3 separate regions of the Homo sapiens genome follow, and all the other regions are linked to region 3. The links come from fine-mapping of genetic effects on plasma protein levels. A gene starts in region 3. Each other region holds a variant in brackets. All regions are shown on one strand. Distances are between the middles of the regions. Region 1 overlaps PLXNB2 (plexin B2). Region 2 overlaps MAPK11 (mitogen-activated protein kinase 11). Region 3 holds the start of PLXNB2 (plexin B2).

Region 1 (8,185 bases), 25 kb after region 3:
GTTCTGGCTTCTTGGGCTGTCCGCAGCCACGCCCCCCAGGCCTGTAGCAAAGGTGACTTGTCTTCAGCCTGCTCCCTCATCACGTCCGGAGCGGCATGTGGGTGCCAGGCGCCAGGCCCCGTCGTCTCGGCAGACGCCCCTCACCCCTTCCTGCCATGTCCAGCTTCAGAGAGCAGGGCCGTTCCCAGAGGCTGCAGGGCCTCGCATGTGGGCCAGGGCAGGCGTCGCGCCCATGTCCCCTGAGTTTTGGGGGCAGTGGGGCCACGCAGTGACGTGGGCAGGGACCTGGCAGGTCCCACTCAGACTCCAAGGAGCCGCTGCCCTCAGTGCCTGCGGGAACAGAGGGTATGAAAGCAACCTGGACCCGGGGGAGAAAGGCAAGCCCGGTGCTGCGCCCGACACCCGAACCAAGATCTGATAGCAGGTGGCAGGTCCAGCCCAGCGTGAACGGGCGTCCTGGCAGCCCCACCCGAGATCTGATAGCAGGTGGCAGGCCCCGCCCAACATGAATGCGGGGCGTCCTGGCAGGGCCCCCTGAAGACCAGGGGTCTCCACCTTGGCCCCAGGAGTCAGCCCCAGGGGAGGCCCAGCCTGGCCCTCGGCCCTGCGGCCGCCACCTTGACACCTCCCCCTCTGCTGTCTGCAGACCACGTGGCCGTGACCATCCAGCTCCTCCTTAGACGAGGCAACATCTTCCTCACGTCCTACCAGTACCCCTTCTACGACTGCCGCCAGGCCATGAGCCTGGAGGAGAACCTGCCGTGAGTGTCTTGTGCCCATCGACCCCACCCTGCCCGTCCACCCCAGCCCTGCTCACGATCCCCTCTGGATGCAGGTGCATCTCCTGCGTGAGCAACCGCTGGACCTGCCAGTGGGACCTGCGCTACCACGAGTGCCGGGAGGCTTCGCCCAACCCTGAGGACGGCATCGTCCGTGCCCACATGGTGAGGGGCCTCGGGGCCTCAGGGGACTGTTCAGGGCATGGCTGCTCCGCTGTGCCCAGGCAGCACCTGACCAGCCTTACTCTCCCAGGAGGACAGCTGTCCCCAGTTCCTGGGACCCAGCCCCCTGGTGATCCCCATGAACCACGAGACAGATGTGAACTTCCAGGGCAAGAACCTGGACACCGTGAAGGTGCGGAGGGAGGGGTGCCGGCTGGTGACAGGCAGGCTCAGGTGCGGAGGGAGGGGTGCCGGCCGGTGACAGGCAGGCTCAGGTACGGAGGGAGGGGTGCCGGCCGGTGACAGGCAGGCTCAGGTGCGGAGGGAGGGGTGCCGGCTGTGACAGGCAGGCTCAGGTGCGGAGGGAGGGGTGCCGGCCGGTGACAGGCAGGCTCAGGTGCGGAGGGAGGGGTGCCGGCTGTGACAGGCAGGCTCAGGTGCGGAGGGAGGGGTGCCGGCCGGTGACAGGCAGGCTCAGGTGCGGAGGGAGGGGTGCCGGCCGGTGACAGGCAGGCTCAGGTACGGAGGGAGGGGGTGCCGGTTGGTGACAGGCAGGCTCAGGTGCGGAGGGAGGGGGTGCCGGCCGGTGACAGGCAGGCTCAGGTGCGGAGGGAGGGGTGCCGGCCGGTGACAGGCAGGCTCAGGTGCGGAGGGAGGGGTGCCGGCCGGTGACAGGCAGGCTCAGGTGCGGAGGGAGGGGGTGCCGGTTGGTGACAGGCAGGCTCAGGTGCGGAGGGAGGGGTGCCGGCCGGTGACAGGCAGGCTCAGGTGCGGAGGGAGGGGGTGCCGGTTGGTGACAGGCAGGCTAAGGTACGGAGGGAGGGGTGCCGGCCAGTGCTGATGGGTGTGTGGGAAGCCTGAGCTCCACCCGTGCCCCCCGACTCGGGGCCCCCACATGAGGTAGAGGGCACAGGATTTATCGGGGACAGAGGCCAGGAGGCAGCACTCGGGGGCCTTTGGATGGGCCTGAAGAGAGGCAGTGGAGGAGGCAGGCGTGTGGAGATTGAGGGGCCAGTGCCACCTCCTGAGGAGGGAGCTGTGGGGGCCACGATGTCAGGTGGGCCGGGCGATGTTCTCAGGTGTGGATGAGTGGTGGAGGTGGCCGTGGGAAACCCACAGAGGACGTTCAGAGGCTTCTGCAGACACAGGTGTTTGGGCTCAGGAGTGGCCGAGGGGTCAGCTGGCATGGTAATCTGAGGGGCGGGCATGTGTGGGGTGAGGAGAGGGCTCCCACACTGTAGGCACAGAGGAGGGGCTGCAGGGGTTCTGGGAGGAGGGCCAGGGTGCCACAGCCGCCTGTCCAGGGTCCTGACGGCATGGTCTGCAGGGTTCCTCCCTGCACGTGGGCAGTGACTTGCTCAAGTTCATGGAGCCGGTGACCATGCAGGAATCTGGGACCTTCGCCTTTCGGACCCCAAAGGTACGGCTCCAGGGCAGGCCGGCTCGGCTGCTGGACCCCAGGGCCCCGGGTGGGGTGGGGGGTCACCTTCAGGACTGTGAGGGGAGGGGCAGCAGGGAGACCCCAGGGACCAGAGCCCAGCCAGGGGCTCGCCATGCCCTGTGCTGCTGGGGAAGCCCCCTCTGCCCTCTGCCTCCCTGGGGACAGAGTGGCACAGAGCAGCGTCCATGGGGTTCCCGAACTTCCGACACCTGAAGGCCTCCCCTGCTGCCCTTGGCTGGGAAGGGACCCGGTGGCCACAGGGAGGCTGCCCTTGTGACCCCCGCCCCACGCCCCTCTGTGGGGGCAGGAAGTGCAGTGTGCCCCTGCGTGTCCCCCAGCTGTCCCACGATGCCAACGAGACGCTGCCCCTGCACCTCTACGTCAAGTCTTACGGCAAGAATATCGACAGCAAGCTCCATGGTGGGGGCCACGGGCGCAGTGGGGGGCGGGCAGGGGACGGGTGGGCACAAGGCGGTGGGTGGGGGGACAGGTGGGCGCAGTGGGGAGCAGGTCGGGGGCGGGCAGGCACGGGGTGACCACTGACGGCAGCTCTCCCCGCAGTGACCCTCTACAACTGCTCCTTTGGCCGCAGCGACTGCAGCCTGTGCCGGGCCGCTAACCCCGACTACAGGTGTGCGTGGTGCGGGGGCCAGAGCAGGTGCGTGTATGAGGCCCTGTGCAACACCACCTCCGAGTGCCCGCCGCCCGTCATCACCAGGGTGAGCCCCTCGAAGCCTGGCCTACACCTTCCCTCGTCCCTGGCATGAGCCCCTCCCTGCTCACCCGGCTCTGTGGTTTCAGATCCAGCCTGAGACGGGCCCCCTGGGTGGGGGCATCCGCATCACC[A/G]TCCTGGGGTCCAATTTGGGCGTCCAAGCAGGGGACATCCAGAGGATCTCTGTGGCCGGCCGGAACTGCTCCTTTCAGCCGGAACGTTACTCCGTGTCCACCCGGTGAGTGGACGGCCCTGGTCTGGGCCCTGTCAGCTGGGTCAGTACCCACGCTGGGGTTCCGGGTGACTGGGTGGGTGGGGAGGCTGAGGGGGTGAGGGTGTCAGGGTGTGGGGTGGGTCGGGGAGTGCCTGGGCCACACTGCCTGTCGCCCGCCAGGATCGTGTGTGTGATCGAGGCTGCGGAGACGCCTTTCACGGGGGGTGTCGAGGTGGACGTCTTCGGGAAACTGGGCCGTTCGCCTCCCAATGTCCAGTTCACCTTCCAAGTAAGCACCCGGCCTCGGGGACCTGCCGAACCCGGGAGGACCGGGAGGAGGGGCTCTGCCCGCCGCCTCCCCACGACAGTTACCATCCAGCCCAGGACCGAGGGCGTCCTGTGCCCCGTCCTCACCCGAGTGCCCCTGCGGCTCTTTCAGCAGCCCAAGCCTCTCAGTGTGGAGCCGCAGCAGGGACCGCAGGCGGGCGGCACCACACTGACCATCCACGGCACCCACCTGGACACGGGCTCCCAGGAGGACGTGCGGGTGACCCTCAACGGCGTCCCGTGTAAAGTGTGGGTGTCACCGCCAGCTGCTGAGTCTGGTTGGCCCTGGCCCTGGGTATGGAGGGGGGCACTTACTGAGACCTGAGTGGCCCTGAGGGGATGGCGGGGCCAGCCTGGTCGGGCTGGGGCTGGTCCCGGGGGAGGGGTTGATGCAGACCAGCACCCTCCCTCCCCCAGGACGAAGTTTGGGGCGCAGCTCCAGTGTGTCACTGGCCCCCAGGCGACACGGGGCCAGATGCTTCTGGAGGTCTCCTACGGGGGGTCCCCCGTGCCCAACCCCGGCATCTTCTTCACCTACCGCGAAAACCCCGTACTGCGAGCCTTCGAGCCGCTACGAAGCTTTGCCAGGTGAGGCTGGTGTCCCCCCGCCCCCCTCTGCTCCCCACACCCAGCTGCCTCCTCAGTGCCCTTGGCTGACTGTGCTGAAAGGAATGTGGTGGGGCTGGTCTGTGCAGCGGGAGGCGGCCTCCGGAAAACCCCACTGCACTCCAGATCCACTTCCTCCTAGAAACCCAGATGGGCACACCAGAGGCTCCACGCTCACCAGGCCCCGTGTGCCCCCCGCCCACTTGCGGCACAGTCTCGTGCTCAGCACGTCCCACCGCGTTGCCCCTTTGCCCACCGAGACCCACACATGCACCTGGAAGCCCCGTGTGGTCAGGGCCAGGGTGGGCGGGGACGGGAGGGCGGAGGCTGCAGGGACCACCCCTGCCAGCCGAGCCCACGAAGGCACTGCCCTCCGCAGTGGTGGCCGCAGCATCAACGTCACGGGTCAGGGCTTCAGCCTGATCCAGAGGTTTGCCATGGTGGTCATCGCGGAGCCCCTGCAGTCCTGGCAGCCGCCGCGGGAGGCTGAATCCCTGCAGCCCATGACGGTCAGTCCTGGCGTGGGCTCAGCTCTGGCACCGGCCCATGGGATCGTGCCCAGGAAGGGCGGGGTCTGCGCCCGGGGGCTGACAGCTGGGACTTGCCTGCAGGTGGTGGGTACAGACTACGTGTTCCACAATGACACCAAGGTCGTCTTCCTGTCCCCGGCTGTGCCTGAGGAGCCAGAGGCCTACAACCTCACGGTGCTGATCGAGATGGACGGGCACCGTGCCCTGCTCAGAACAGAGGCCGGGGCCTTCGAGTACGTGCCTGACCCCACCTTTGAGAACTTCACAGGTGGCGTCAAGAAGCAGGTCAACAAGCTCATCCACGCCCGGGTGAGGACGGTGCAGCCCCGGGTGTCTGGGTCCTGCTCGGGTCTGGGCTGAGAGCTGGTCCACCTGTCCCTGGTTCCCTCCTCCTCACCCCGACCACTGCCGCCTCCCCAGGGCACCAATCTGAACAAGGCGATGACGCTGCAGGAGGCCGAGGCCTTCGTGGGTGCCGAGCGCTGCACCATGAAGACGCTGACGGAGACCGACCTGTACTGTGAGCCCCCGGAGGTGCAGCCCCCGCCCAAGCGGCGGCAGAAACGAGACACCACACACAACCTGCCCGAGTTCATTGTGCGTGAGCGGGGACTGGCGGGGGGTGCCCCCACGGGACCGCGCTGAACCCGGCCCCCCACACAGGTGAAGTTCGGCTCTCGCGAGTGGGTGCTGGGCCGCGTGGAGTACGACACACGGGTGAGCGACGTGCCGCTCAGCCTCATCTTGCCGCTGGTCATCGTGCCCATGGTGGTCGTCATCGCGGTGTCTGTCTACTGCTACTGGTGAGCCCGCCCCCCGGCTGTGCCAACACCCTGAGCCCTCGGCCCTCCCGCCTCGGCCCCTCTGGCCTCATCCGCCGCCCTGCACAGGCAGGCGTGTAGATCCACCTCCTCATCCGGGCAGCTGAGCGGCCAGCCCCGGCAGAACCTAGGAGGCCCGCTGTGCCTTGCAGGAGGAAGAGCCAGCAGGCCGAACGAGAGTATGAGAAGATCAAGTCCCAGCTGGAGGGCCTGGAGGAGAGCGTGCGGGACCGCTGCAAGAAGGAATTCACAGGTAGGGACCGCTTGGGGGCTGGTGCTGGGGCGCCTCCTGGGGCGGGGATGCTGTGTGTAGCGTGGGGGTCAGGGCCCCACGTGGCCAGGGACGTCTCACGCCAGCCTCCCCCCAGACCTGATGATCGAGATGGAGGACCAGACCAACGACGTGCACGAGGCCGGCATCCCCGTGCTGGACTACAAGACCTACACCGACCGCGTCTTCTTCCTGCCCTCCAAGGACGGCGACAAGGACGTGATGATCACCGGCAAGCTGGACATCCCTGAGCCGCGGCGGCCGGTGGTGGAGCAGGCCCTCTACCAGTTCTCCAACCTGCTGAACAGCAAGTCTTTCCTCATCAATGTGAGCCAGGCGTCGGGCGGGCGGGAGGGCACACAGGTGGCGCCGGGCAGGCTTTGACCGCCGGCCCCTACAGTTCATCCACACCCTGGAGAACCAGCGGGAGTTCTCGGCCCGCGCCAAGGTCTACTTCGCGTCCCTGCTGACGGTGGCGCTGCACGGGAAACTGGAGTACTACACGGACATCATGCACACGCTCTTCCTGGAGCTCCTGGAGCAGTACGTGGTGGCCAAGAACCCCAAGCTGATGCTGCGCAGGTGCACATGGGCGGGGCCACGAGCGGGGCCACGGGCGGGGCGGCCGCAGGGGCTCTGGGGCTGGTGGCGGGTGGCACAGCGGCCTGTTGGGCCCCCAGGAGCCGGCAGGTGCCAGCCAGCGCTGGTGGTGGGGGGCGGTCTAGGGGTGGTGTCCCCGGCCACAAACTCAAAGCCGGACTCTAGCCCTTCCTGTCCAGCGGTTTCAGCTGGTCACAGTGTCAGCCCTCTGCAGAACAGAAGGAAGGTGGCACACTTCCCACAAGGGCTGGAGCTGCCACCAGGTAGTCCTCGCTGCAGGCCACACCCAGGCTGGACAGGGGCGAGGCTGGCGCAAGGGTGGCCGGGTGCTTGGAGGAGTCAGTTGGGCCTCAGGAATACTACGGGGTCACTCGGTACAAGGCCTCCCTGCACCCCCAGGTCTGAGACTGTGGTGGAGAGGATGCTGTCCAACTGGATGTCCATCTGCCTGTACCAGTACCTCAAGGTGGGTTCCACCCCAGCCTGGCTGGGGCTTGAGGGATGAGGCAGACTGCTGCCATCCCCTCCTGCGTTCCCCTATCTGTACGGCACCTTGAGGTGGGCCCTGCCTGGACAGGTTTGCTTCCTGCCCCTGACATGGTCAGCCCCGTCCATGCCTCTGGCCAGGGCTCCGGGGGCCCCTTCCAGGCCCCAAGTCCCCTGACCTCCCAGCCTCCCCTCCGTGTTACTCCAGGACAGTGCCGGGGAGCCCCTGTACAAGCTCTTCAAGGCCATCAAACATCAGGTGGAAAAGGGCCCGGTGGATGCGGTACAGAAGAAGGCCAAGTACACTCTCAACGACACGGGGCTGCTGGGGGATGATGTGGAGTACGCACCCCTGGTGAGCTTCTGGGGTGGGGGCCGCCATGGGCGCCTCGGATCTGGGCTAAGGAGCTTGGGCATCCCCTGGCCACAGATGGGACCCACAGGCCAGAGGCCGTCCACCTCCTCTGTGGATTCGAGTTACAGCCTGCTCTAACTCGGCCTCAGGGAGGGGCCTGGGTGCTGGTGGCTGTGGGCTCTGGAGGCTCTAAGTGTGCGGGCCCCGCATCAGCTCTTCCCGGGCGCCCCCACCTCCTGGAGGCCATACAAGGGCCTGGCACACCAGGTGTGTCCAGGGTTCTGTGCATACATGACCAGTGGGTGTGGCAGGAGCCTGTGCATGTGTGAGACGTGTGTATTCTGTGTCTGTACATGTGCTTCCATGAGCTTGCGTGACAGCCTGAGTGAGCGGTTCTGAGCCGTCCCCGTCTTTCTGTCCTGCTGAGCCGGAGCAGGCAGGGGAAGGGCAGAGTGTGGTCATCTGGGAAGCCTCGGGGGCTCGGAGCCGGGCTGGCGGGGGCCTGCTGCCCAAGGGTGCCGCTGTGGTGGGCAAAGCTGGCGGGGCAGGGAGTGGCTCCTGCATGGTGCAGGTAAGAGCAGGGCCTCCCACTGGGCTTCATCCCGGATGTCTCGGCAGACGGTGAGCGTGATCGTGCAGGACGAGGGAGTGGACGCCATCCCGGTGAAGGTCCTCAACTGTGACACCATCTCCCAGGTCAAGGAGAAGATCATTGACCAGGTGTACCGTGGGCAGCCCTGCTCCTGCTGGCCCAGGCCAGACAGCGTGGTCCTGGGTGAGTGCCGGCCCCTGCCCGTCTGCACACAGGCGCCCATGTGCCTGGCCTGTGTCCTGGGGCGGTATCCTGCCTGGCCAGCTTTCTCATATGGGAGTGGTGGGCA
Region 2 (8,106 bases), 42 kb after region 3:
ATCTCTCCCCCTGGGATGGCCTCAGACTCCCCCTCAGACCACAAACCCCACTTAGGCCCTGGGGCCAGAGGACCTGGCCTGGGGCCCAGGAAGACGACAGAGTCTGGGTGGGGGAGGGGGGTCAACTGGGCCAAGGTCTCTGTTAGACCCGGGTAGCCAGGGCTGGAGGGGCTTAGGGTGAGGTAGTTACCGGGAGTCCTAAGTTTCAGCCTCCATGTTGACTGGGAGGCTGATCATGGGTACAGGCTTTGAGAGGTGCAGCTGAGTCCTCACCATGGCCAATGCCGCTTAGCTGCTGCCCACTGGGGGGTCCTGGTGGGGCGCAAAGGCAGAGGCAGCCAGGGCAGAGCTCTGCCCCAGGCACTTGCAGGTTGGAAGTGGGACCTCTAGGCCCACCAGATTTGGAGCTCAGGAGCCGGCATCAGGGGCCGGGGGTCCCAGGGCAGGCTGTCTTCTGGTGTGGTCCCTAGCCTTCCATCAGAAGCTGTAGGTGGGTCATTCTAGCCATCATGCCAGCACAGATCTGTCTTCCTCTTTGAGACCTGAAGGGCAGGAAGAGGGTCTGGGACGGTGTGGGAGTGGCCATAGGGGACTAGGGTGGGTCATGGCTGGACTCGCCGTCTGGGAGTTGCTGAGAGGTGTCCGGTTCTCTGAGTGAGGCCTGGTCTCCCCCCTTGCACCCCTGGCCCATTTTCTTAGTTCCACTGCCAAGGCTGCGGGCCAGGTGCCAATTCCCTGTCACCTGACCGCACAGATGCAATTGGCCAAAAGAACTTGCTGCCCCACGTGCAGGGCCACTCCCCTCACCACCTCAGGAGCACCTTTCCCTGGTCATAGGCTGGGAGCATGGCTGCCCCAGGCACCTCGACCTGCGCCCATGAGCATCCCAGACCCAGCAGGAGCCGCTCCTGCTCCCCTTGTGTGGGCATGGGGGGTGGCCTCAGCCTCCACTTGCTCTGAGACAGGATCCCAAGAGACAGAAGTGGGAGGGAGAGAAGAAGCAAGTATCAGCCAGAGGGAACAGGCTGTGCAAAGGCCTTTCCTTTAGCAGGGCTGAGGGCAGTGGGACATGGGAGGGTGGGATGAGGGTCACCTGCAAAGGGAGGGTGGGCTCAGGAAGCTGGTGCAGGGTAGAGGGTCTGGACCTCTGGGAAGTGGGGCTGGGCGAAGGGCTGTTCTGTGGGTCCAGCTGACGCCCTCAGCTGTACATCACCTTCTGTCCCGGTTTTGTTCCAAATAATGATGCAATAAACACCTCTGACCAACTTTCCCTCCGTATTTTGAACATTCGGAGGCACCAGGGGTCCAGGGGCTTTGAGGTGGCTCTAGAATCCCCCTCTGTGAGCCTCCTGGGCCCATGGGGTCTATGGGGCAGAGGGAGGCCCGTCTGCTGCAGGTGAATGCCAGTGACTGTTTTCCTGCTGTGTTTTTCCACGCTGGATGGGGCACCTCTCCCCCAGCCTTGCTTTGAATGGGGGCCCCTGGTTGAGCGTGGGAATCAGTGGGGCCAGGGGACAGAGAAGGTCCAGGACCTTGTGGGGTGAACACACGCATGGTGGTCCAGCCCCAGGGGCTCCTTCCCAGCAAGCGCGGAGTGGGTAGGCCCGAGGGTGGGAGGCCGAGCTGGGGCGGCGGGGCCGGGGCAGAAAAGCCCCACGGCCCCATCCCCACGGAGAAGCGGCGAGAGGGACGCCGCCCGGGTCCACGCGCGTGCGGCCGCCCTCGGACCCCTCCCGGCGCCGCCTCACTCGCCCGCCTTCCAGTTCGGCCTACGACGCCCGGCTGCGCCAGAAGGTGGCGGTGAAGAAGCTGTCGCGCCCCTTCCAGTCGCTGATCCACGCGCGCAGAACGTACCGGGAGCTGCGGCTGCTCAAGCACCTGAAGCACGAGAACGTGAGCCGGGGGAGGGCCGTGGGGGGAGGGCGCGTGCGGGGGCGGGGCCGCGGCGCAGCCAATAGGCGGGCGAGCCCTGGCGATGGGGGCGGGGACACAGGGGGCGCGGCCTGGCACTGGGGGCGTGGCCCGGGGGGAGCTGAACGACAGCCGGGGGTTCGTCGCCCGGCCCTGACGCCCCCCGCCACCTAGGTCATCGGGCTTCTGGACGTCTTCACGCCGGCCACGTCCATCGAGGACTTCAGCGAAGTGTGAGCGGCGGGGCGGGCGAGGCAGCGGGGAGCGCGTTCGCGGTGGGGCGGTGGGGCCCTGTCCTGACCCCCTGACCCCGCCCCAGGTACTTGGTGACCACCCTGATGGGCGCCGACCTGAACAACATCGTCAAGTGCCAGGCGCTGAGCGACGAGCACGTTCAATTCCTGGTTTACCAGCTGCTGCGCGGGCTGAAGGTGGGGCGCCCTGGGCTTCGCGGGTCCTCTCGCAGGGGGGCGGGCGGGCCGGGCCCGGCGCTCACCACAATCCCCCTCCCGCAGTACATCCACTCGGCCGGGATCATCCACCGGGTAGGTGCGACCGCAGGGTGAGGGTCGGGTCCAGCAGGGCTCCGTCCCAGCCTCCTGTGCTCACGCTCCGCGTGACCTGCAGGACCTGAAGCCCAGCAACGTGGCTGTGAACGAGGACTGTGAGCTCAGGGTGAGGCCCGTGGGCAGGGGTGGGCAGGGCGGCGGCGGAGCCCGTGCGGAGCTTGAGAACACCACGTGGTCGCCCCAGATCCTGGATTTTGGGCTGGCGCGCCAGGCGGACGAGGAGATGACCGGCTATGTGGCCACGCGCTGGTACCGGGCACCTGAGATCATGCTCAACTGGATGCATTACAACCAAACAGGTGCAGGGGGAAGGCCTTGGGGGGACGAAGGCCAAGGGCCTCGTCTGGCCCTCGACTGGCTCTGCATGCCAGGTCTTAGGGGGCAGGCAAGGTCCCCAAGAATGTGGGACCCACATTCAAAAGTAGCCCTTCAGAGGCCGCTAGAGCATGATGGGTGCTGGCCTCCTCTGGCTGTGCAGCTATGGACCTCCCCCTGCCTAGGGGGGTTGGGTATGGCAGAGGAGGGGGTCTGCCCATCTTGGGGTCTGGATGTGACTGTGGGTCTCCTGGAGGAGGGACGTGGGGTGGGCACACTGATGGAGGTCCCCTCGCCCTCGCACAGTGGATATCTGGTCCGTGGGCTGCATCATGGCTGAGCTGCTCCAGGGCAAGGCCCTCTTCCCGGGAAGCGACTGTATCCTTGGCCCAGGTTGGGGAGCAGGGTCAAACAGGGCCCCTCCTGTAGGGTAGGGACCAGCGCTGGCCCCTTCTGGCGGGTCTTGCCTCCTCTGCCCCCCATGCTATGCTACTTTGGGCTGGCCATCCTCACCTATAGGAGAGCGGGCTCTGGGCAGCGCCCCAAAGTTTTGGGTCTGGGGGCCCAGGAGGGGTCTGTGGCTGGCCCGTGGGTGTTTCCTGAGTGACACAGACATTGACCAGCTGAAGCGCATCATGGAAGTGGTGGGCACACCCAGCCCTGAGGTTCTGGCAAAAATCTCCTCAGAACACGTGAGTTGGTGCCCGCCAGCCAGCAGCTCCCTCTCCTGGCTGAGCCCCCAGGCTCTCTGGGGGAGAGGGTGGTGTGGAAATGCGGGGACCATATGGGGAACATGGGATGTGGTGGGATAGAGCCTAGGGCAGGTGCCCAATCCCTGCAGGGGAAACAGGAGAAGGGGGAAGACATTCCTGACACCAGGGACAGTGAGTGCAAAGCCATGACCCCAGCAAGCAGTGCCTGGCCAGGGCAGTGGGGGTGGGCTGGGGGCCCAGCAAGCAGTGCCTGGCCAGGGCAGTGGGGGTGGGCTGGGGGACCCCAGCAAGCAGTGCCTGGCCAGGGCAGTGGGGGTGGGCTGGGTGGAGGGAGTGTACTTGGACCCAGCTCCTGCAGGCATTAGGGGCCAACTGAGGAGCTAGAACCACCAGATCCTATATGGAGGGGGTCACTGGTCTGCCTGTGCCCTTGTCCTGGCCTGTTGGAGTGAATGAGTCTGGGGGCTTGCCAAGAGAAGCCCCAGTTTGGGGCCAGGGAGGCAGAGAGTGAGCAGCCTCCCCAGGTGTTCTTGTGTGCCCCCAGGCCCGGACATATATCCAGTCCCTGCCCCCCATGCCCCAGAAGGACCTGAGCAGCATCTTCCGTGGAGCCAACCCCCTGGGTGAGGACTGCCCTGGGCTAGACTGGGCTCCATATCTGGCCCTGGATGTACAGCTGACCCCCCTCCCCACCACTGGCTTCCCTGCAGCCATAGACCTCCTTGGAAGGATGCTGGTGCTGGACAGTGACCAGAGGGTCAGTGCAGCTGAGGCACTGGCCCACGCCTACTTCAGCCAGTACCACGACCCCGAGGATGAGCCAGAGGCCGAGCCATATGATGAGAGCGTTGAGGCCAAGGAGCGCACGCTGGAGGAGTGGAAGGGTGAGCATGGCAGTGGCTGGGGGTGGGTCCAGGGGCCTGCGGGCTCCATTTCCCCAGAGGCAGGAAATGCCCCAGTTCCTCTCCAGACTGGTCAGGTGTGGAAGGGCGTTCAGGTGTCCAGCACAGGCTGGGAGCGGGGCGGAGGAGTGACACAGGGCAGGTTCTGGCTCCCAGACTGTGCTGAGGCTG[C/T]TGTCACAGGGTGGTGGGCCTGGGCTGGGTGGCAGGTGCCAGACAAGCAGGTGAGGGGCCGGGCTGTGGGAGGCACAAGCTCACCCTTTCCCTTCACCTCCTAGAGCTCACTTACCAGGAAGTCCTCAGCTTCAAGCCCCCAGAGCCACCGAAGCCACCTGGCAGCCTGGAGATTGAGCAGTGAGGTGCTGCCCAGCAGCCCCTGAGAGCCTGTGGAGGGGCTTGGGCCTGCACCCTTCCACAGCTGGCCTGGTTTCCTCGAGAGGCACCTCCCACACTCCTATGGTCACAGACTTCTGGCCTAGGACCCCTCGCCTTCAGGAGAATCTACACGCATGTATGCATGCACAAACATGTGTGTACATGTGCTTGCCATGTGTAGGAGTCTGGGCACAAGTGTCCCTGGGCCTACCTTGGTCCTCCTGTCCTCTTCTGGCTACTGCACTCTCCACTGGGACCTGACTGTGGGGTCCTAGATGCCAAAGGGGTTCCCCTGCGGAGTTCCCCTGTCTGTCCCAGGCCGACCCAAGGGAGTGTCAGCCTTGGGCTCTCTTCTGTCCCAGGGCTTTCTGGAGGACGCGCTGGGGCCGGGACCCCGGGAGACTCAAAGGGAGAGGTCTCAGTGGTTAGAGCTGCTCAGCCTGGAGGTAGGGGGCTGTCTTGGTCACTGCTGAGACCCACAGGTCTAAGAGGAGAGGCAGAGCCAGTGTGCCACCAGGCTGGGCAGGGACAACCACCAGGTGTCAAATGAGAAAAGCTGCCTGGAGTCTTGTGTTCACCCGTGGGTGTGTGTGGGCACGTGTGGATGAGCGTGCACTCCCCGTGTTCATATGTCAGGGCACATGTGATGTGGTGCGTGTGAATCTGTGGGCGCCCAAGGCCAGCAGCCATATCTGGCAAGAAGCTGGAGCCGGGGTGGGTGTGCTGTTGCCTTCCCTCTCCTCGGTTCCTGATGCCTTGAGGGGTGTTTCAGACTGGCGGCTCCAGTGGGCCAAAGGGCAACCACATGAGCATGGGCAGGGGCTTTCTCCTTGGATGTGGGACCCACAGCAGCTTCCTGAGGCTGGGGGTGGGTGGGTGGGTGGTTTGGCCTTGAGGACGCTAGGGCAGGCAGCACACCTGGATGTGGACTTGGACTCGGACACTTCTGCCCTGCACCCTGGCCCGCTCTCTACCTCTGCCCACCGTTGTGGCCCTGCAGCCGGAGATCTGAGGTGCTCTGGTCTGTGGGTCAGTCCTCTTTCCTTGTCCCAGGATGGAGCTGATCCAGTAACCTCGGAGACGGGACCCTGCCCAGAGCTGAGTTGGGGGTGTGGCTCTGCCCTGGAAAGGGGGTGACCTCTTGCCTCGAGGGGCCCAGGGAAGCCTGGGTGTCAAGTGCCTGCACCAGGGGTGCACAATAAAGGGGGTTCTCTCTCACTTGGCTTGTATCCAAAGGCTACTCCAGGCCCGGGTGCCCCCACCATCCCTGCTGCTGGGCGTGGGGGGAGTGTCTGGGTCATCCTGCATCACTCACCTCCAGCTGGCCAGATCCCTCAGGCCCCCAGTCAGACCAGCGGCCATCTTCTGGCACCCTCCCTGCTCCCTGGAGGGTCTGAGAGCCCAGGGGGACCAGGGGAAGACATGGCTGATGGGCAGACTTTGAGGGCACAGGGTGTGACAGCCACCCAGATGGTGACCCCAGCTGCCCTGTGGGGATGTACTGGGCAGGCTTGGCTTTGGGCCAAGATCCAGACACCACCCCCGCCTACCCCTCAGTGTTCAGGGAAGCTGGCTGGGGAGAAGTTGGGTGTCTCAAGGAGCAAGGGTCTGCCCATCCCTGGGTGGGGGCTGGGCAGGGTAGGGAAAATAGCTTTCCTTTCCCTCCTGGTGAAGGAAAAAGAGGCCACTTTAACCCAGGGAATGTGCACGCTGGTCCCGTTCCCACTACGCGCTGCAGCTTATGTGTGGGGGAGGGTCCAGGCCATTTGGGGTCAGGCAGTGTCTCTAAGGACCAGGGACAGTCTGTGCCCTTGCTTGGGTCTTGGGTAGGGGTGGAAACCGTCTGGGAGTTGGGGGCCTCCTGGGGCCTGGTCAGTGTAGTGGTCAATCCCGGGGGAAGTCCAGTGTTGGCGGTTGGGGGTGGGAGGAGAATGGTGACACAGCCCCACCTCAGAAGCCTGGTCCGTGCAGGGCCTGCTGGACCCCTGAGCCCCACCACGGGGAGTAAGGGGGACAGCGTGGAAGCTGGGCTTCCTGGAAGAGGTGGATGGAGTGCCACAGGCAGCCCAGGGCACAAAGGGTATGGGCCACAGGCAGCTGTGGTTTGGGTGGCCCTGGGCTGCCCCGCTCACTGGTCACGAGCTGGTGAATGCCGTGGAGCACGGCCCAAGCCCAGGTGTAAAGCTACTACCACCCTTGAGCGGCTGAGCTGCTGATTCATGGCAGGAGGGCGGGGCAGAAGGCCCTAGGGATCCTGTTACCCACCAGCCCAGTGGGCTCCTGGGGTGCCCCAACATCCCTTCTGAGATCCAGGTTCCTGGGCTGGTGAAGGGGTGTCAGGGTGGGGCTTTGCCCTCAGGAGCATCTGGTCCAGGATGGGGCCAGACCTATGGGAGGACAATGCCCACACAGAGGGGTCAGGCGGAGGGCCCCAGCAGGTCCCCATCCCTGCTGGAGAGAGTGCAGCCACTCTCAGCCTGGGTTTTGCAGGACAGGACAGGCAGGGGTGGGATGGGCAGAGACACCAGTACTTGCAATGCTTGGAGCAGGCACCCCACAGATGGGGGGAGCAGGGGGAGGAGCTGGGGGTCCAAAAGGGCCCACGGGGACCTATGGGACTGAGAGGCCCGGGGTCAGTGGCCACAGGAGTGGGGTTGGGGATGCAGCCTGAGGAGTTTGGGGGACAGACCCCTCCGTGTAGAAAGAGGGATACAGGCAGGACAGGTGCAGATGGACCCCTTGTTGGGGGACGGATGGATCAGGCTCAGTGGTAGGGCATCCTTGGGGGTGGCCTGCGAAGTTGACCCCGGGAACACAGGGCTCAGCCCGACTTGCGGCTGCCATAGAAGTCAGCGCTCAGGCTGTCAAGGATGGGCCCTGCGCCCTGGAGCCGTGGGGAGTTAGGACTGGAGCGGGCGGGGGGGGGGGGGGGGGGCTCCTGCTGAGACCCCCCCAGGGCGGGGAAGTTCAGCCAAAGGGGAGAGGCTGGCAGAGGTATCTCCGCGCCGCGTCCGGCCCTTTATGGGGACGAAGCTGCGGGGCGGCGCTCCCCTCCCCCTGCGCTTCCCCCCAGGCTCCGGCCCTCCCCAGGCTCCGGCCCTCCCCCGGCGGCGGCCGCCTCGGGTTTCCGGAGGGGCCGGAGGGCGGGCGAGGGCGTCACGTGCGCGCCGCCCGCGGGCCGGTTGGTCCCCGGGCGGGGGAGGGGCCGTGCGCAGCCTGGGTCGGGGTCGGGCCGGGGTCGGCACCTGGGACATCCCTGAGGGAAGGGCCGGGAGCGGGAGCGCCCCAGCGGCCGGCGGGCGGGCGGGCGAGCGGACGAGCGGC
Region 3 (8,185 bases):
CGGTGCCCATCTGTTGGCCCCCGACCCCCCTGCGCTGTGTGTGATGCTTCCCTCAGCCCAACAGGCTGCCCAGGACAGGAGGGACCCTCTCCTGACACAGCCCCCGTCTTGTCTGGGGATGGGAGGCTATTTTGCATATAGTCATCAACTTGAGAAAGGGAGAGACCACTTTGCAGTGTGAAGAGCTCTGCTCACCACCCCTGGTGCTCCTCTGGACACCCACCTGCTTGGGGCTGTGGTTTGTTGGGAGGTAGGGGTTGGGCAGGGGGCTGTGTGCAGCCCAGCACCTCTGCTAGGAGAGCTGGCTCAGCCTGGCTCTCGGAGAGCCACAGCACCTTCCTGGCTCCCAGTCCTGGAGCCCCCACCAGGCACCAGCTCCGTGCGTCCCTTCTGGGAGGTGGACAGGGCTCCTGTTGTCCAAGTGTGTCCGTCCATCCCCCACATGCAGCCCAAGGGGCTCTGGACTTCGGCCTGACCCTGCCTCTGGCTGGAGCCTGCATGTCTCCCTTTCCTTGGTAAGGGGTGAACGTCCCTAAGAGCCACCTCTGGGTTGTATGCTCCCCCCGTGACACCTGCAGGCACTGAGGCCGGTGAGGTACGGTGTTGACCCTGCACAGCACACAGTGACGGTACTGTCAGGGCTCCGGACAGCCAAGCCCTGCTCAGCATCACGCACTGTGTGCCCGGGAGCAGGTCCCCTGACCACTCAGACCCTCAGACTCCTCATCTGAGCGAGCCAGCCATGCAGATGCCCGACAGGGTGCTGGGAGGGCCACTCATGGAGACTGGGCTTTGTACCCTGTGAGGCCGGGCGGGTGCTGGCCAGGGGACACAGGGCTGGGGGAGGGACTTTTTCTTTTTTTTTCTTTTTGAAATGGAGTCTCGCTCTGTTGCCCAGGCTGGAGTGCAGTGGCATGATCTCGGCTCACTGCAAGCTCTGCCTCCCGGGTTCACGCCATTCTCCTGCCTCAGCCTCCCGAGTAGCTGGGACTACAGGCACCCACCACTGCGCTTGGTTAATTTTTTGTATTTGTAGTAGAGACAGGGTTTCACCATGTTAGCCAGGATGGTCTCGATCTCCTGACCTCGTAATCCGCCCGCCTCGGCCTCCCAACGTGCTAGGATTACAGGCATGAGCCACCGCGCCCGGCCGGGACTTTTCTTTTTCTTCTGAGGCCCCCATTCAGTCCGAGGAATGTAGCCTTCATTCAGCGCAACGTACTGTTTGTGTTCTCATTGGTGCTCTCAGACCTCCAGCCAGGTGGTGGAGAGCGAGCACTGCCAGCCACTTCAGTGCAGGATGTGACTGAGCCACAAGGACAGCGGGGTCAGGTGTCCGGGCGCCAGGTAGTTCTCAGAACTTGGTACATGTCAACTTGTCCAGCCCAACTGCAGCCCAGGACAGCCTGTCCCTGTTCCCATTCTACAGACAAGACGCGGAGGCAGCCGGGAGGGTGACCAAGGGGAGCTGTTAAGCCCCAGATGTCTGGTGCAGGGTCCAAGGATGTGACCACATGAAACAGAACACATAGAGGCCGAGGTGGCAAACCTGTTCTGTGGCAGGGACAAGCCGGGGACCCGAGGGTGAGAAAGGTCCTGGCCCCAAATGCAGCTTGGGCCTCCTGACTGTAGCACAGGGGGACCAGCCTCCCCACTGAGGGCTTGGTCTCTAGAGGGTCTGCAGAGATGCTGGCACCTCTTGTGTGGGCAGCTTGAATGCTGACCTCCATAAGATGGGGCCTGGGGGGCCAGTACAGGCCCTGCCATCAGCTGCCCTCCACCAGGGCCCTCTGCAAAAGCCTTATGCTGGTGACCAGCCCCCTGAGGACCACCACTTCAAGGTGTCGGGGCAGCTTGGGAAGACAACCCACCTCTCTCACAACTGTGACCCCACTTTGGGGAGCGCACCCCAAGGACCGTGGCAGCATGTGCTTCCCCACAGCACAGTCTCGCCTCACTTGGCTTTCTGAGGGCTGCCGCACAGCACAGAGGGCTGCAGACCCACATGGCTGCAGGGGAGGGGCTTCAGGCTGGTCTCTGAGGAGCCCCCAGGGACCCTGGCCACTGTGTATCCAGAAATGCACAAGCAGATTTCCCTGGAGGGCTCTGGTGAGGCCACATAGTGGCGTGTGAAGGGGGAACTTGAGGGGGGAACCGGGCTGGGTGGCCAGCATTGCCCTGGGCAGAAGCTAAGGCTAAGGTGGGGGGTAGTGTCCCAGCCCCTCTTCCTCAGGGCCTGTCCCCACCTGTGCAGAAGAGGCCTGGGGTGGAATGTGGCCTGGGGTGGATGGGTGGGGGCTGGGCGTGGAGACCTGCCAGCTCCATCTGTCCGGATGCCTCTTGTGGCCCCCCCAGTGTCAGGGCCGCTCTGAGTTGGCTGAGCCTCTGTCCAGGGCTAGGCCATGGCCCTCCCCGCCCCACGCACTCCAGGCCAGGGGCAGTCAGTGAAGAGGCAGGAAGGTCCAGACAGCTCTACCCCTGGCCAGAGTGCCAGCCCCCGCAGGCAAGAGGGCTTGCTGGGCAGAACTTAGTTGGCGAGGGTGAGGACTGCTGTGGTCACAGGCCTCCCGAAGGACAGGGACCACAGAACCTAGAGGGTGGGAAGGGCTGGGAGCAGGTCTGGAGTGGGGCTCGGGGCTGAGGGTGCACACAGGGGGCCTGCTCAGGGACAGGAAGGACAGCTGCTCACCCTCAAGCTTCCTGCTGGCTATTTAAAGACTCCCTTTTAGTCTAGAACAGTGGCCTTCCCACAGTTTTGGTATTAAAATGTCCTTTTGTGACTGGACCTTGTCTTTTCCTTTTTTGATAAAAAGTTGGCAACCTTGTCAGAACCTGGTAATTTTGGGGTCCTCTGCAGTGAAGGGTAGGGTTGCCGTGATGTGGATTGTGGTTCAAGGCCCAAGGGAAGATTTTGGACAGGAACAAGGCCTGGCTGCTTGAGGGTGGGAGAAGGCAGAGACTGAAAGAACTAAGTCAGGCTGGGGGAGTTTGTCAGGATGTGGCGGGGCGGATCCCGGGTGGGGGAAGCAGAGGAGGAGGGGATGCCTGGCTGGGGACAGGAGGAAGCTGACCAGCTGCAAGGACGGGGCAGGTCTGGGTGGAAGGCGGGCCCCAGGGAGGGGTGACCCAGGGTGGGGGCAAGAGCTTGGGGAATGCTTCTGTCTCCTGCTCAGCACATCCAGTTCCGGGAGGGCAGTGGAGGCGTGCTCCAAGGTCTGGCCCTGCAGACGGTTCACCACCTCTTCTCAAGCCCAGGGGACACTAGGAGCACTGAGGCCAGGACTTGGGACCTGGGATGCCAGAAGTGGGGCCAGCTCTGTCCCAGAAACCAGAACCCCCAGAAAGAGGTCTCGGCCCGCCCACCTCCTGGCCCTGAAGGACCAGGTGGGGTCCCGGGTGCAGCATCCCAAGGTGCTGCTGGAGGCCAGGGATGTGCTGGGAGGCCATCTCCAGGTCCCAGTTTACCCTGGGAGGTTGAGGGCCTGAGACCCCTGGGAAAGGGCCAAAGCCCAGCAGCCCCCACCCCTGAAGGCCGCAGGGGAGCGACTGGTATGCTTCCAGTCTGGGAGTGAGAGTCTGGTGCCCACACATCTCAAGACTGGCAGGGACCCTCACGTTCCTCTGGCCAGGCGAGAGTGCACTCATAATGCCCTCCCCTGGTACCAAGCCATGGCCTCCCCTCAGACCTGCGGGGTTCCTGTGGGGGTGCTCAGGCCATGGGGCCTCTGTGGGCGCTCGTGCTTCCTGGACGGCGGCATGGTGGGCAGGGTGCTGCCCTGGCTGAACCTGGGTCTGAACTGGGGTGCCTGAACCTACCAGACAATGCTGTGGCCGCTGGGCAGGGGAGAAGTGGGGGGCGCGGGGAGCGCAGGCCCAGCCCCTCCCCTCCCGTCCCCTCCCCTCCTCTCCGGTTCTCTTCTGCCCTCTCCTCCCCGCTCCTGCTCCCCCTCCCCTCCCCCTCCCCCTCTTCCCCCTCCCCCTCTCCCCCTCCCCCTCTTCCCCCTCCCCCTCTCCCCCCTCCCCCTCTCCCCCCTCCCCCTCCCCCTCCTTCTCCCCCTCCGCTTTCCCTCTCCCTCTCCCCCCTTCTCCTGTTCTCCCCGCCCTCCCCTCCTCTCCCTCGTCGGGGGCGGGGCCGGCAGCTCCCGCGCGCTCCGGCCCCTCCTCGGCCACACAAAGGCCCCGTCTCCATGGCAGCAGCGCGGGCCAGAGCGCAGCGCCGAGCGCGGCCCGGGCGCCATCGAGCCTTGGCGGCGGACGTGCAGGTACCGAGCTCGGGGGACTGGGCTGCGGGGGACGTCTCGCTGGGCGTGGGGGGGGCTTCGCCGTCAGCGCCGCTCCGCCCGGGCCTGCCGCGCTGGGGCCCGGGGACCTGCGGCGGCTGCGGCTCCGCGGAGGGCTCCCGGGGCCTGGGCCCCGTCCGTCGGTCCATCCGGCGAGGCCCGGGCCGCTGCCGCCCCACTCCCTTCCCGGTGTTGACTCGGGGGACGGGCCCGGCGGCGGGGGCTGCGCGTCCCTCCGGAGCCGCGTCGGATCCCTCCTCCGCGCCTGCCTCTCACTCTTCAGCCGCCGAGCTCCGTGCGCCGAGCGGAGATGGTCTCGCGGTGCGGGCGCTCCGGGCCGGCCCCAGGCTCAGCGGCACAGGAGCCTGGATTTGCCCGAGCTCCCGGGGGCCGTCCCCGCACCCCCTGGGGCCTGCTTGGCGCGGGGGGACCAGGGCGGAGAGCACCCGCACCTGGCGAGACCCCACTGCCTGGGCCTCCTCGCGGTTCCCAGAGTGGCGTCTGGGTGGACACCCCGAGACACAGAAAGTCTCAGAAGCGGGGGCGCGAGCCCTGCCTGTCCCCTGCTGACCCTGCCCCTCCGCACCCTGCTCCTGCAGGAAGCCCCTGCCCTGCCAGCGCCCCTGGTCGGGCTATTCGGCAGATCTGGGGAGCCCGCCTCCCCCTGTCATCTGGGGGTCTCAGAGCCCGGACGCCCTGGGGCTTCCTGCCAGGCCCTTGATTTCTCTTCCCGAAGCTCCCTGGGAAAGGAAGAAAGGGGTCCGTCTGCCCACTGTGGGCTGTGGCAGAGTCAGGACAGGGGGTGAGGGTGAGGGTGAGGGTGAGGGTGAGGGTGAGGGTGAGGGTGAGGGTGGGCCCCAAACCCGGCAGATCCCGGCGGCCTGGAGGGCTCCCTGTGCCCCACCTTCCCTGGACCCCCCCGCCCTCCCCACTTAATGTCTGACTTCGGCCCTTGCTTGGAGGTTCGGCGCAGCCTGTGAGGCTTTAAAGTTGAGCTTCCTCAGGAGCCCTTTGCGGGTGGGAGAGCGAGGCTGCCGGGAAGTGGGGGCTCTCAGCCTGCCCCATGCCCAGATGACCCTGGCACGGAACAGCTGAACAGCTGGTGGGAGGAGCCCTCCCTTTCCTGTCCAGAGGTGAGGGTCTCCCGGAGGGCAGGGCCAGCAGGCATAGGTTTGTGGCGAGTCAGCTTTTTGCATGTTGCATAGAAATCCCCAGAGCCGACTGAGAAGCAAGCAGGTGGGCCTGGCACATCTGAGTCCTCCCACGGTACCTATGGGGGGCCCACCTCTGTCCCGGGGGGTCTGGGAGGCCTGAGGTCTGGCCAGGGGTTCCTTGCCCCAGTAGAGGAGGGAAGTTACTGAGAAAAACAAGGGTTTGGAATGTGAGTCCCCCTCCCCCACCGGCTGCCTGCCAAGAAAGAATTATTTTGGATCATCCAGCCGTGTCCAGTCACCCGAAGCGGGAGGCTGCAGCGTGGGAGAAGGATCCACTTCCGGGACGTGGGTTGAGGGCCCCAGGAGGAGGACGGGCAAGTCCGGGCAGCTCTGCCACTTTCTACTGCAGCTGCCCAGACTGGGCGGGGAGAAGATGCGTCACCTTTGGGTTGGAGAAAGCCCCAAGGTTGGCCCCAGCAGGCCCTGCTGAGCCTGCAGTGGGCCCAAGCCCCTCTGGGGGAGACCATGGAACAGGAGGAGCTCTGGGCCCACCCAGGGACCCCCTCGCCCCACCCAGGGACCCCCTCGCCCCGAGAAGTCTCAATGGTGGTCTGAAGAGCCTCTGAGGTACCCTCCAGGCCCAAGTTCAGGGACACACCCTGTGCCAGTGACCTGTGCGTGCCAGGGAGGAGCAGGCAGGAGCGAGGCTAGGCTGCTAGGGAGGGCACTGGGGTTTCCCTCAGGGGGCCCTCCTGCCCCAACGGACTCCCTATTCAGCTCCTGACTAACGGACCAGCCTCCCTCCAAGCCCCTCCGACAGCCAGTCCTTGCCTACGACCCCCTCTGGATATGGCGCCTGTGAGCCCATCCTGCAGGTGGGGAGACTGAGGCCAGAGATAGGTCTATGTGAGGAGTCATCTGCGATGCTGTGTGGCCAGGGCTGTGGCTACCTGGCGCTCTGGGTCCATGCTGTGTGTGCGCCCGGGGTGTGTGCCCGGCGGCCTGCATGGGGACCACATCGGGGAGGAGGAGCCGGCAGCTGGCCCCAAGTGCAGAAAGCCCAGAGCCTTGGACCCGGCCCAGGGAAGTGGAGCAGAAGAGATTGGATTGGAAGGTGGTGGGGAGGGCCCATATGGCACAGTCCTCCTCCCATCCCAGGACGTCGTCCGTGCTCACCGTGTCCTGCCCCCTGCCTCACCCTGTGCCAGCCACAGCTGATGGTCCCCCTGGGACGCGGGCGTGGGCAGGGGTGCACTGGCTGGGAGAGGCTGTGTCTTCCGGCCCCTCATATTGTGCCTTCTCTGAGCTAGGCAGGCACTTGGATGCCAGGCCTCTGCCACGAGGGCTGCCTTCCCCTGAGCTGGGAGTTCTCACTCAGCTCATGCCTCCGTCCCTCTGGCTGCAGCCTGGCCGCCCTCCTTGGAAGTTGGCGGGGAACCTCTTGTGCCCAGAGCCTGCCTTGGACACGGTTTGGGGATGAGGTGGTGAGCTGCTCAGAATTCACCCAGTGGCCAGCAAGTGGCCCCCCAGCCTTGACCTCCCTTCTCTGAGGCAGATCCAGGTTCTCTGGGGGTGGGAGATTCAGTAGGGCTGGGACTGGCCACAGCCCCTCCCTCCCTCAGGGGTAGTGGCTGTTTGTGTTTGGGGTGGGGCTGTGGGTGGGGTGGGGCTGGGTCTCTGACTAATTACACGATGGGGAGGGTGGGTCAGAGCCTTGGCTGGTGGGGGGTGCTCAGGCTCTGGGGCCCCGGGGAGGCAGCTGCCCTAGCTTCCCTCTTTCTGGTCGAGGTTCCTCCACCTTCTTCCTTTCCGTGGTTTCACATCCCTTGACACAGGGCCTGCTTCTTCCCATACCCCTGGATTGTAAGGACCCCTGCCTTTCTCTGCCTACCAGGGAAGGACCCTGCACTGTTCTGGGCTCCCCCAGCCACAGGTGTGGCCTCAAGCCAGGCCCTGACACAGTGGCCCTCCTGGCTCAGAAGCCTTCTCTCTGAAGACCAAGCGTGTGAAGGGATTGGCTGGGCCCCTCCCGTCTGGCCCTGAACACTGGCACCCCGCACCCCCCCAGTGGATCCACCCTGCCCTGTGAGATTCATGAACCTGTGACAGTGACTGGCCCCAGGCCCAGTGGTGCCGGGGATGGTGGGACAGGCTGCCCCTGGTGGTACTGCAGGTTTGCCCCACCCCCGGGGATGTCTGTCTGGGGAGGAGCCTGGGGCTGGCCTGGCTGTGGAGCTGGGGGTTCTGTTTCGCACAGTCCCGCCTCTGCAGCCCAGATCCTGGAGCCCTTCACACCCAGAGGCCAGCCCACACCGTGGCCCGCTATGGTTGGTGGCCTTCCCTGGGGGTAGCCCCTAAGGCCACACCTGAGCTGCCTCATGTCCCAGGCTAGGTGAGGGAGGAGACTGCCCTGGGCTGGGATCAGGGCGCCTGGGGGCAGGTCCAGCTCTCTTCCTCAGCCCCCTAAGGTCTCCTGGCTTCTGAAAGCCAATAGTTCCTCATTCCAGTGCCAGCTGAGTCCCGGCCCAGGCCTGGGGCAGGAGAGGGAGGTGCTGCCCCAGTTCAGCCACCAGCTCTGCCAGCAGGGTCCCAGCAGCAGCAGCATCAGAGGCAGGGACTGGGCTCCTGGGGGTAGGGCCCCGGCCCCTCTGGCACAGCTGGTCAGCAGCTTCCATGGGGGGCCCTGTGTGGAGACACAGTGTCCAGCACCGATTTCTGGGCCTGATGCTGCCCCAGCTGAGTCCCGCAGCA

Evidence for each region. PIP is the chance, under the fine-mapping model, that this variant and not a neighbour inherited with it causes the effect. Protein levels are from the aptamer-based SomaScan assay of Sun 2018.
Region 1: its variant is fine-mapped to the plasma level of the PLXNB2 protein (Sun 2018, PIP 0.95). The variant lies in the coding sequence of PLXNB2. If it changes the protein, the assay may bind it differently, which can mimic a change of level.
Region 2: its variant is fine-mapped to the plasma level of the PLXNB2 protein (Sun 2018, PIP 0.95).

What each region holds. Positions count from the first base shown.
Region 1 is chr22:50,278,749-50,286,933 of GRCh38, reverse strand. It overlaps PLXNB2 (plexin B2), which reads left to right. Exons shown (of 37, transcript NM_012401.4): 9 at 647-761; 10 at 836-944; 11 at 1,033-1,134; 12 at 2,269-2,361; 13 at 2,721-2,802; 14 at 2,944-3,101; 15 at 3,184-3,332; 16 at 3,489-3,597; 17 at 3,748-3,884; 18 at 4,053-4,223; 19 at 4,621-4,750; 20 at 4,853-5,080; 21 at 5,192-5,368; 22 at 5,435-5,574; 6 more. Among named protein-coding and RNA genes, the nearest start is that of MAPK11, 12 kb to the right of the region's middle. RefSeq lists an enhancer at 3,618-4,817. The variant A/G (reference allele first, on the strand shown) is at 3,229.
Region 2 is chr22:50,261,607-50,269,712 of GRCh38, reverse strand. It overlaps MAPK11 (mitogen-activated protein kinase 11), which reads left to right. Exons shown (of 12, transcript NM_002751.7): 2 at 1,764-1,893; 3 at 2,086-2,144; 4 at 2,231-2,342; 5 at 2,427-2,456; 6 at 2,539-2,586; 7 at 2,665-2,779; 8 at 3,102-3,173; 9 at 3,408-3,487; 10 at 4,053-4,131; 11 at 4,219-4,392; 12 at 4,686-6,000. The coding sequence ends at 4,765. It overlaps MAPK12 (mitogen-activated protein kinase 12), which reads left to right and starts at 8,030. Exons shown (of 12, transcript NM_002969.6): 1 at 8,030-8,106. RefSeq lists silencers at 1,861-1,930, 7,692-7,741, 7,752-8,061, 8,092-8,106 and an enhancer at 6,913-7,644. The variant C/T (reference allele first, on the strand shown) is at 4,582.
Region 3 is chr22:50,303,630-50,311,814 of GRCh38, reverse strand. PLXNB2 (plexin B2) reads left to right here and starts at 4,169. Exons shown (of 37, transcript NM_012401.4): 1 at 4,169-4,262. DENND6B (DENN domain containing 6B) reads left to right here. Exons shown (of 20, transcript NM_001001794.4): 20 at 1-2,785. RefSeq lists silencers at 3,098-3,147, 3,848-3,897, 4,058-4,257, 4,268-4,337, 4,858-5,008 and enhancers at 5,557-5,926, 5,316-6,515.